Homo sapiens: one gene and its partners. The protein of the gene in region 2 purifies or fractionates together with the protein of the main gene of each other region. This does not show direct contact. Each region holds a gene or a part of one and is shown on either strand. Other genes may lie near its edges. The genes, in order: CLEC4M, TLR2 and LY96.

Evidence for each region.
Region 1: the proteins of TLR2 (region 2) and CLEC4M purify together in Homo sapiens (affinity purification with western blotting, with the first as the bait; one study listed by BioGRID). This does not show direct contact.
Region 3: the proteins of TLR2 (region 2) and LY96 purify together in Homo sapiens (affinity purification with western blotting, with the first as the bait; one study listed by BioGRID). This does not show direct contact.

The regions. Positions count from the first base shown.
Region 1 is NC_000019.10:7,761,743-7,765,492, reverse strand, and holds the start of CLEC4M (C-type lectin domain family 4 member M), read right to left. Parts: upstream 2,251-3,750; 5' UTR 2,227-2,250; coding exon 2,181-2,226; intron 2,101-2,180; coding exon 2,017-2,100; intron 309-2,016; coding exon 225-308; intron 1-224.
Region 2 is NC_000004.12:153,682,735-153,686,484, forward strand, and holds the start of TLR2 (toll-like receptor 2 precursor), read left to right. Parts: upstream 1-1,545; 5' UTR 1,546-1,626; exon of another isoform or gene 1,627-3,750. UniProt on the Homo sapiens protein: Cooperates with LY96 to mediate the innate immune response to bacterial lipoproteins and other microbial cell wall components. Cooperates with TLR1 or TLR6 to mediate the innate immune response to bacterial lipoproteins or lipopeptides.
Region 3 is NC_000008.11:74,008,268-74,011,917, forward strand, and holds part of LY96 (lymphocyte antigen 96 isoform 1 precursor), read left to right. Parts: intron 1-1,733; coding exon 1,734-1,862; intron 1,863-3,650. UniProt on the Homo sapiens protein: Binds bacterial lipopolysaccharide (LPS). Cooperates with TLR4 in the innate immune response to bacterial lipopolysaccharide (LPS), and with TLR2 in the response to cell wall components from Gram-positive and Gram-negative bacteria.

The DNA of each region.
Region 1 (3,750 bases), on a different chromosome or scaffold from region 2:
GCAGCACAGAAGGCCAAGGAGAGCCAGGTTCTTCCCCTCCTCCTCCTCCCTCTCCTGTCCTGCTCTAGAGTGGGGAGGGGCTGTGGGAGAGGCCCCTACAGACCCCCAGGGACAACATCTTGGCTCTCAGTCCCACCTCCCTCCCAGACCTGGCCACTCCAGGCTCTGTTCATAGCCAAAAGGCCAGGCCTGGGGACCCCAGACCCTCAGAACCTGCCCCTGACCTTGGACAAGGATGGCCACCAGGACCCCAGCCAAGAGCATGAAGGAGAGGAGTTGCAGCACCAGGGCGCCATGGCCAAGACACCCTGAGAGAGGATACATGCGTCAGCCTGCCAGTGTTCCCACCTGAGCCTGGCCCAGGGAGAGCCTGGCCTAATCCCTCAGCACCCCAGGACCCAGGAACCCCAGCCCCAGCCCCCTCCACTCCAACACCTGGGAATCCAGGCCCTAGCTCTAACCTCCCCAGGACCCAGGAACCCCATCCCCAGCCTCTCCCTCCCCAAGTCCCAGGAGTTTAGGTCCCAACCCCCACCTCCCCAGGTCCCAGGAACCCAGGTACCTGCGTCCACCTCCCCAGTGGAACAGGAATGAAAAGAAATTAAAGAATGTGTAAGCAAAAACTCAGTTGTATGTAAGAAAACCCAATTCCCCCTGAGGAAGAGAAAGAGGTGGAATCCTTTAAAAATTAACTGCCTTTTTGGCCAGGCATGGTGGCTCACACTTGTAATCCCAGCACTTTGGGAGGCTGAGGCAGGCAGATCACAAGGTCAGGAGATCAAGACCATCCTGGCTAACACAGTGAAACCCTATCTCTACTAAAAATACAAAAAATTAGCCGGGCGTGGTGGTGGTGGGCGCCTGTAGTCCCAGCTACTCGGGAGGGTGAGGCAAGAGAATGGCATGAACCTGGGAGGCAGATCTTGCAGTGAGCCGAGATGGCGCCACTGCATTCCAGCCTGGGTGACAGAGCAAGACTCTGTCTCAAAAAAAATAAATAAATAAATAAAAATAAAAACTAAATAAATAAAATAAAAAAGAATTAACTGCCTGTTTTTCTGTGTGTGGCTAGTGAGCCTTATCTCTCCCTTTCCCAGGCATTGTGAAGACCCTGTTTCTCTAGCTGTGCAGCTGCAAGGTCACTAGGCAGATAAACTCAAGTTGTAAAACATGTTTTTCCTTGAAAAATAAGAAATGACGTAATGCATGTCTCAATTGAATAACTATCTTTGTTTCTCGCTTCTGTAATATGCTTCCCCCTGCACAGATCTCCCCCTACCCCATGAAATGCTTAAAAGGTAACTTGACTCTTTGTTTGGGGCTCAGTCTTTTTGGATGTTAATCTGACTGGGCTGGTGCACCTAAATAATAATAATAATAATAAATCCTCCTCAACCCCTTGATCTCTGTGATTCCTAAATTATCCTGCAACACCAGGACTCAGGCATCCAGGTCCCAGCCTCCACATCTCCAGGTCCCAGGAGGAACCCAGGCCCAAGCTCCCACCTCCCCAGGTCCTAGGAACCCAGATACCTGCTTCTACCTCCCCAGGACCCACGAATTCAGGCCCCAGTTCTCACCTTCCCCAGGACCCAGTAATCTGGTCCCAGCTCCCACCTCCCCAGGACCCAGGATTCCAGTCCCCAGTTCTCACCTGCCCCAGGACCCAGGAATCCAGGCCCCTTCTCCCACCTCCTCTGGTTCCAGGAGTCCAGGCTCCAGTCCCTACCTCCCATGGACCCAGGTGTCCAGCTTCCAACCCCCACCTCTGTAGGTCCCAGGAGTCCAGAACCCCTCTCCCACCTCCCCAGGCCCCAGGAACCCAAGCCTCAACCCCCACCTCCCCAGGTGTGAGGAGTTCAGATCCCTACCCCGTCCTCTTCAGGACCCAGGAACCCAGGTCTCAGACCTTCCTTCCCCAGAACCCAGGATTCCAGACCCCAACACCTACCTCCCCAGGACCCAGGGGTCTGGGAGGCTCTGTCTTCCACTATCTGCTCCCTAACTCTTGCCTACCTGTAGAGCTCTTGTGGCCATGTATCTGCTGGAATTGAAAGTCTCTTGGAAAAAGTCTGATGCCACTGGTTGTTGGATCTTCTTCTGAATTGACAGACATCAGCTCAGAGCCTGGGCCATCCCTTCCCCTTACCCAGGATCCCAGAGTTCCAACCCAGCCTTACCCAGGAGGCCCAGCTGCTGCACCCTTGGTTCCTTGGAGTCACTCATGTTTTCCCGCTGTCCCCAGATGTTCAGGACTCCTGGGGACCACAGCTTTTATTTTCCACCCTCTGATCCTCACTTTCTAAATCTACTGTCTCTCAGGAAGACAAACAGGAAGCTGGGTAAGATCACATCACCAGAAAGGCTAGTGAAAGGAGTCAGAGCCTGAGATCGGCCTGACCTTGCAGGAATTTCAGGGAGGTGTTGGGGGATGGTCTGGGGTTGACAGGGAGAAGGACTCCTCCACTCATGACATGGTTGAGCGATGGGATGCTTTTAATAAAATTCAATTCATTCTAATGGAAAGCGACTTTGTTATGCCTCCCTACGTAGGGCAGGGGTGGGCAGGCAGTACCGCCTAGTTCCTGGAACCACCATGCCCTCTGACCTCCAGGATCTGCTCTTTTGGTCTGCGGATGCTCTCATTCATGGGAATTTCCTTTGTTTTTGGGAGTTGGAGATGAACGATAGTTGTTTATTTCATACCTATGATAGGCACATTTCCAACAGCTTTATAAAACTCCTTCATTTAACTTTCCTACCCTGCAGTAGATCATGTGACCTCCAGTTTACAGATAGGGGAAAATAGAGGCACTGCGAGATTAAGAAACTAGCCCAAGGTCACACAGCTGGTAAATGGTGGAGCTGAGATTCGAATCCAGGCAGTTTTCCTCCACACTCCACCCAGTTAACCAAAGAGGGTCTAATAACATCAAGGGCAAAATAGAAAGATTTATAGTAACTTTAGTTAGACTATCCCAACCCAAATTGGAACAACCCATGTGGCCACCAGCAGGTGAATGAAAACAAATATCATGGCATATTCAGAGGGTGGAATTCTATACAGTAATGAAAAAGCAAAGTACTGATACAAACAACAATTTGGATGAATCTCACAAGAGTTAAGAAACCCAAACAGAATGAATACATTCTGTAAGATTTTGAGTTTACATGAATTTCAAGAATAGGCAGAAGAACTAACCTTTGATGGGACTCAAATTGGGGGCTTTCTGGAAGGAGTGGGTGTAAACTGACCAGAATGGGGTAGAAGGAAATTTTCTGCTGACAATGTTCCATATTTTTTTCTGAGAAGTGGCTGCATGGATGAATTCATATGTCAAAATTTCTTCTCTTTCTTTCTTTCTTTCTTTTTTTTTTTTTTTTTTTGAGACAGAGTCTCGCTCTGTCACCCAGGCTGGAGTGCAGTGGCTGATCTGGGCTCCCTGCAACCTCCGCCTCCTGGGTTCAAGTGATTCTTCTGCCTCAACCTCCCGAGTAGCTGTGACTACAGGTGTGCGCCACCACATCTGGCTAATTTTTGTATTTTTATTTATTTATTGGAGACGGAGTCTCGCTGTGTTGCCCAGGCTGGAATGCAGTGGTGCAATCTTGGCTCACTGCGACCTCCACCTCCCAGGGTCAAGTGATTCTCCTGCCTCAGCCTCCCGAGCAGCTGGGATTACAGGTGCATGCCACCATGCCTGGCTAATTTTTTTGTATTTTTAGTAGAGACGGGTTTCATCATGTTGG
Region 2 (3,750 bases):
TTGTGGACAGTGTACAACTACCTTCAATATATGCAGAGGACACTGATTTGTGGCTAAATAAATGATTTCTATCTGACTTTGCCAGACAATTCTAATTGACTTTGGGATTATAGAGCAATAGCATCAAAATCCACCTTAGGCAGTTCAACTAGGGAAGAGAAATAGAGAAAAAACAAGTTTTTAGTTTCAGGAGAAATAATTTGAAGGAAGTTTTCTTTTGTCAGAAATCACAAGGTAGAGAGCTGGAGATTTGGAATTAATAAGAAAGCATTTTCAGCCAGCTGGACAACCTGATGGTCAGGATAAAGAAAAATAGTAAGATAGTGACCTGTATACAAAAACCTCTCAATTTCATATTTAGGTCTATTGATTAAGTTTCCCTGATGTTCCAACCATCAGAGAGGATTAGGGATGTGGAACAGGGTAGGAGAAACAGCCCTGGATTTAAGGTAAAATTCTGGTTTCAAATCTCAGTTCTGTCATATGTTATACAATTCACATGACATTTTCTTGTGTAAGGGAGGAACAAGGATGCTTGCTCTGCTTCATATCTCACTTTGTGAAAATCAAATGTAATTATGAACATAAAAGGTAGATTATTAACATTAAGGCAGTTGAATTTTAAAAGCTTGTTTTCTTCCCTTATACATATTCCTAACCGTGGAGACAGCTAGGTTCTGTGGCAATGAAGAAAATTGATCAATGACTGTTTTTGGTATTACTTTGGGAAGTAGGGATGGAATAGGGGCAAGGGAAGGGCTTAGCTTCAAACTGTAGACAGAAGTGGGAAGCCCAAATCTTTGCATGGTGAGAAGTGGGATGGAATGTAGGTGCTAGAGATGGTGCACCAGTAGGGACTGTCACTGGATTGGGGAAAAAAATCCGGGGCTGTCCTTATCTGCTCCCTTAGGCAAAATCGTTCTGTGTTAGTCTGGAGGGTGAACCTATTTTAATGCAGGAGGGCATAGACTTTTGGGTGGAAGCGGACCCTGGAGATGTACTGGCAGGTGAATAGAGTGTGGAAAAGTGGGGAAAGGAGAAGCACGATTCATGAGCCTGAGTTCGGGCTTCCATGGATGGAAAAGCATCAGGAGTGGAATTTAAAGACGGTGTGTTTCAGGTGATGTGAGGTCCTGGATGCCCGAAGCTTCAAGAAAATACTGGTTGGGCACTTAGCTTTCCCTGTGGTTGCCAATCCCACGCAGGCCGCCTCTAGCGTCTCGATTCGCTTTTCTCTGACCTGGAACCTCCGCCAAGCCCCCAGCTCTCTTCTTCGACCCAGCCTTGCACGGGGCAGCTGTCGGGGCAGGACCCGCCTCTGGCCTGTCGCAGCCTAGCTCACGGTCAAGGGCGGGAGCCTGCTGGGAAGCACGGCCGCGGGGGCTCGCTCGGGGCCACCTGCCTGGAACTCAGCGCGAGGTCCAGAGTTCCCTCCGGCTGCGCAGCGGCGCACGTGCCCCGTGGAAGGGGCGGTTCCCGCACCCCAGAAGGAGGGGGCGCCCGGCCGCGCGGACTTTCCCTTTTGCTTACTTCCTAGTCCCGGGCAGGCCGGCTCGGAGGCAGCGAGAAAGCGCAGCCAGGCGGCTGCTCGGCGTTCTCTCAGGTGACTGCTCGGAGTTCTCCCAGGTACGTCGTGCGCTCCCCACTCGTGTGGTCTCTCTGCACCCCTTCCTGGGGTCGGGTCGGGCAGGGGCGGAGGGGAGCCGCAGCCCGGTCACGGGCTCTGGGGAACCCGGGCTCCCGTTCGGCTGCACCTGGGCCCCTAGCTCCTGTCCGGGCGGGGATAGCGGGAAGCGCACCAGGCCCCCGGGACGCCGGTGCTTCTTTGCACGGCCCAGCGCGGGAATGTGGACACCAGCGAAGCCGGCTCAGGTCGGCCCTCGGGAGAAGCAGGGGCTACACGGAAAGGGAGCCCGAGGGTCCTGCAGAGCCCGAGGTCGGGACCCCGCGCGTGCAGTGCCAATGGGCTGCGGCTGGGCTGAGCGCCCTTCCAACCTTGCAGGCCCCGGGGGGGTTGCCGCGGAGAGCTTCCGCTGGGGCTCCGGGCCTCTGGCCGCCACCTCCCTCGGGAGGCCGAGGGGGGCGGTGGCCCCGGCCCGGCCCTCCCGCTTCCCTCACGGCCTGGCCCTCCCGCTTCCCTGATTCCCGGTAGGGTCGCTCTCCCCGCCTCCTGGCCCCTCTTGGCTCGGATGACAAAGATTGGGTAAAGGCTTTCAACGAGCTAGCGTCTGGCAGGGGGTGTGTCCTCGCTCACTGGTTACTGCTAGGACGGAGCTTGGATTTTGGTCACCGTGGCTCAGAGGTGGGAAAGGTTCCGTGCTCTGGGTCTGTCCAGGACCCTGGCTCCCTAACCCAAGTCTGACCTCTGCTCCCTGGCAGGCTTCGCCCCACCTCTGCGTTCCTTCATTCTTAGGATGTGTGAGTTAGGTCTCTGATTAGAAAACAACTTACAGCGTTTAAGCAAAGTCGAGTCCTTCAAGTAAGAATGCTTTGAAGTGCCCTTTACAACTTCTTCAACTTCTATAAATATGAACTTGTGTTTAGAACTTAAATGCAAGCCAGGAAAGTCTTTTTCCTGTTTGAAAGAGAGAGAAAGAGAGAGAAAGAGGTGATTGGAAGTGGTGGGTGGGGGCGGAGAAAGAGAAGGAGAGTAATCTGGGTGTAGACAACTCAAAGTTTGCTGAGATGACTTTAATCTTTTGACTCTGTTATTAAGATTTTTACCAAAGAGCAACTGTAGCTATGGTGGCCTGACTTGAAGGGACAGACCAAACAAACAACAAAACACAAAACAAAACAAACAAACAACAAAAGCAAGAGCAGAAACTATTGGAAAATGATTTATTCACCAATATTTTAAAGGTTCTTCCTGTTCTAAGCAAGGAACATCTTTAAGTTCTTTATAATGTACCCATTTTACATTTACAAAAACTGCCAGAAGTTGACAGCATGTTTTGGGGGTTTCTAAGCTATCAGTTAATTTTTTGGGGTACAGTTTTATTGATAAACTAACAGAGTAGAAAAAATCTAATGGAATACCCCCAAATTTAAAAGAGGGCAAGAAAAGAGAGACAATAGAACATAAAACAAATGGGACAAGAATAAAGTACATAGTTGTCACAGTCCCTTGGGTGCTGCTGTAACAAAATACCTGAGACTGGGTAATTTACAAAGAACAGAAATTTATCCATTCATGGTTCTGGAGTCTGGGAAGTCCAAGATTGAAGGGCTGCATCTGGTGAGGGTCATCTGGCTACATTATAACATGATGGAAAGCATCACATGGTGAGAGAGAGCAAGAGAGGACAGAACTTACTTTTATAACAAACTCATTCTCACAATAAACTGCTCCCTTGGTGATAACATTAATCCATTTATGAGGGTACAGCCTTCATAACCTAATCACCTCTTAAAAGGTTCCACCTCTCAGCTCGCAGTGAGCCGAGATCATGCCACTGCACTCCAGCCTGGGTGACAGAGCGAGACTCTGTCTCAAAACAAACAAACAAACAAAAATTCCACCTCTCAACACTGTTGCATTGAAGATGAAATTTCCAATACATGAGCTTTGGGGCACACATTCAAACCATAGCAATAGTTCAATTACTTTAAAGCCCAAAATGTCAGTAATTATATTAAATGCAATTTAATACATCAGTAACTAAATGAGATAGACTAAATTTTATGATAATCAGACTAATATTATCAGACTAGACTTCAAAACAACCCAACAATCATATGCTGTTTACA
Region 3 (3,650 bases), on a different chromosome or scaffold from region 2:
TTTCACGAAGAAATGGAAGAAGGTCCTTTGCCCTGCATTGTCACTGGACACCACAGTGGTGCTGTCTTGTGCTTCTGTGTCTCCAGGAATTCCTTATGAAAATGGTCTTTCAACTTCTACACACAGCACTGCTTTTGGAGAAGTTCAAGCCCAAGTCCATGGAGTAGGCCATGGGATCACTGTTTGAAACAGACGCCATGATATTCTTCTCCACACCCTACCCTGAAAGTTGAGAAGTGAAGACAAATTAGGAAAGTTGGTGGTGCTTCAGGTTCAGAGCAATGAGGGCCTACATGAAGGCAGCGCGGTAATGGGGATGAAAAGGAGGTTAGAAAGATTTACTGGGACTGGGAATTCTAGTGCCAACTTGGTGATGAAGAGGAGGAAATCACTTTTAGATCTGTTGGGTGAGGTAACTGGGCAACATTTGAGTAGAGATATTGAATAAATACATGGGATCAATGCTCAGGAGAAAGGTTGAGACTAAAGTTGACTTGAGAATTGTCACCTTATGTGGTACTTGGCCTGAGAGAGTGTGCAGAGTGAAAACTAAGGAGAACTGAGGATAGATCCTGGAGAAATCCAGGAGTCGATGAAATAGACTGAGGAAGAGGAGTCAGAGAGATTGGAGGACACCTGGAAGGGAGTGGTTGCACCAACACCAAAGAAGGTTTAGGGAAAGGAGCAGGCAGTTCTGTTAAGCATAGCCAAGTTCAAATTAAAGTTAGAAAAGTTGTCTTTTGATTATGGTTACAATGAGTCATGGTGATCTTACTAGGAAAATATTTTCAGTGAGGTAGTGGTTGCAAAATTGTTTTCTTTATGAAAAGGATTGTGCATCTTTTTTGGCCAGGCATGGTGGCTCATGCCTGTAATCCCAGTACTTTGGGAGGCTGAGGTGGGTGGATCACGAGGTCAGGAGTTCAAGACCAGCCTGGCCAAGATGGTGAAACCCCATCTCTACTAAAAATACAAAAATTAGCTGGGCACGGTGGTAGGCGCCTGTAATCCCAGCTACTCCAGCGGCTGAGGCAGAAGAATTGCTTGAACCTGGGCAGCGGAGGTTGCAGTGAGCCAAGATTACGCCACTGCACTCCAGTCTTTCTCAAAAAAAAAAAAAAAAAAAAAAAAAGAAGAAAAGAAAAGAAAAGAAAGAAAAGGATTGTGCATCTTTTTCATTTGGGCCAACTGAATAAGTTGGAAGAGTTGAGAAAAATGCATTGATTACTGGAATTTTTCATGGTAGCTGGAAATAGGGAGATCATGAGGAAATTAAAAAATAGGCATACATTTAATTTTTCATCAAAAGATTCTATTTTATTCTCAAGAAATCTTTCATCAGAACTCCTAGAAAGTTGACTGTCTCACTGTCCTTCCTTTCCTTTTCTTTTCTTTTGAATTTTCTAGCAGAACCATAGAACTAGACATTTTATGTCTTTATTTGATAGTTTTCTCAATGAAGTTATGAAGGCTCTTCTGTTTTTAGGCAGAGCATGCATAGTTTTACTGTGGAACATTGTATTTGATTATGATTTACTAGTTGCCCTCTCAGAACTTCAGTTTTCTCATCTGCAGAAGAAGAGTAATAATTGACATCTTGTAGATAGTTGTGATGATTAAATGAAATAATGTAAGAAAAGCACAGGGCCCCTTTTAACTATACAATAAATGTTAATTACTATGTATAAAAGAATCTACTATTTGAGGGCCTAATGGGATTTTTTCTTTTAAAGGGAGAGATTTAAAGCAATTATATTTCAATCTCTATATAACTGTCAACACCATGAATCTTCCAAAGCGCAAAGAAGTTATTTGCCGAGGATCTGATGACGATTACTCTTTTTGCAGAGCTCTGAAGGGAGGTAAGTATTCAGTTCATATTACTTTTAGAATAGGAAATAATTCTTTATGAAAATGTTATGAAAATTAAATACATTGAAAATGGGAAGTTCCTTTTCTGCTAATAATTCTTTTTCCATCCAAAGTTTTTACTTTAGCAGCTTAAATAACATTTTATAACTATATACTTGAACTGTTAGGATGACACTTACATGATTTGTATTATTAATATTTTTCATAGTAACCCACCAGATTTTCTATACAGTCCTTGGTTTCTTTAGTGACTTCTGCCTTTATGTTCCTCCTTGGAATTATTTACAGAATAATAACATTCAGAAATTAGGACCCTTACAGAGATCTTGCACCAAGGGATAAAAAAATAAAAAATAAAAATGAATAAAAAAAAGGAATTACCACTTTAGAGCTATATTCCAGCTTTTCCATTTACCAGCAATGTGACTTTTGGCATGTTATTAATATTTAACCTTTCTTGGCCTCATTTTCCTCAGCTATAAAATGGGAAAGTAAAACACATCATACATAGTTTTAAGAATTAAATTTGAGAATGTATGTTAAAAAAAAAAGCCTAGTACAGTGTTCAGAATAAGAATCCTTCTTTTGTTATGAATTTTCCAGTCCTGTCATCTTTATAATGAGGGAACTGATGTTTGCAGTGGCTTAGTAATGTGTCCATGGTCATTTGGAGAACTAGTAACAGAGCAGCATCCTAACTCTAAGACATGACTCTCCTACTGTGTCATGCTTTCTCTTTGGAAAAAAAAAATCCCTTAGCAGATTACTGTTTTTTTTTTTAATTGTGCATTTCTTTTACACAATCTCTGTGGAATTACATTGATATTTTACCTGAATCTTCAAAGTTTCTCTTTCTTGAGACCTCAGAGGTGTCAGACTCAAATCAGCTTGTCTACTTCTTCTCTCCCTCCTCCCACTTTCTTCCATAAACATCTATTGAACCTAATTTGAGCAAATCGTGATTTACGTTCTGGTTATCTGAAGTTGAATGGTAGGATCTCCTTCCTCAGAAAGTTACTCTGGGGAAAACTGGATTGCCATATGCAGAAGAATAAAACTGGACCCCTAGCTCTCACCACATACAAAAATCAACTCAAGATGGATGAACAACTTAAGCATAAGATCTGCAATTACAAACATACTAGAAGAAACCTAGGAAAGATTCTTCTGGACATTGGTCTAGGCAAAGAATTTATGACAAAGATCTCAAAAGCACAGGCAATAAAGACAAAAGTAGACAAATGGGATTTAATTACATCAAAAAGCTTCTGCATAGCAAAAGAAATAATCAACGGAGTGAACAGACAACCTGTAGTATATGAGAAAAAATTCGCAAACTATTCATCCAACAGGGGACTAATATTCAGAATGTACAAAGAACTCAAGCAACTCAACAGCAACAACAAAAACAAATAACCCCATTAAAAAGTGGGAAGAGTGGCTAGGCGCAGTGGCTCACGCCTGTAATCCCAGCACTTTGGGATACCAAGGCAGGTGGATCATGAGGTCAGGAGTTCGAGACCAGCCTGGCCAACATAGTGAAACCCCATCTCTACTAAAACTACAAAAATTAGCCAGGTGTGGTGGCATGCGCCTGTAGTCCCAGCTACTTGAGAGGCTGAGGCAGGAGAATCGCTTGAACCCAGGAGGTGGAGGTTGCAGTGAGGCGAGACCATGCCATTGCACTCCAGCCCAGGTGACAGAGTGAGACTCCATCTCAAAAAAAAAAAAAAAAAAAGTGGGAAAAGGACATGAATAGACACTTATAGATACTTTTC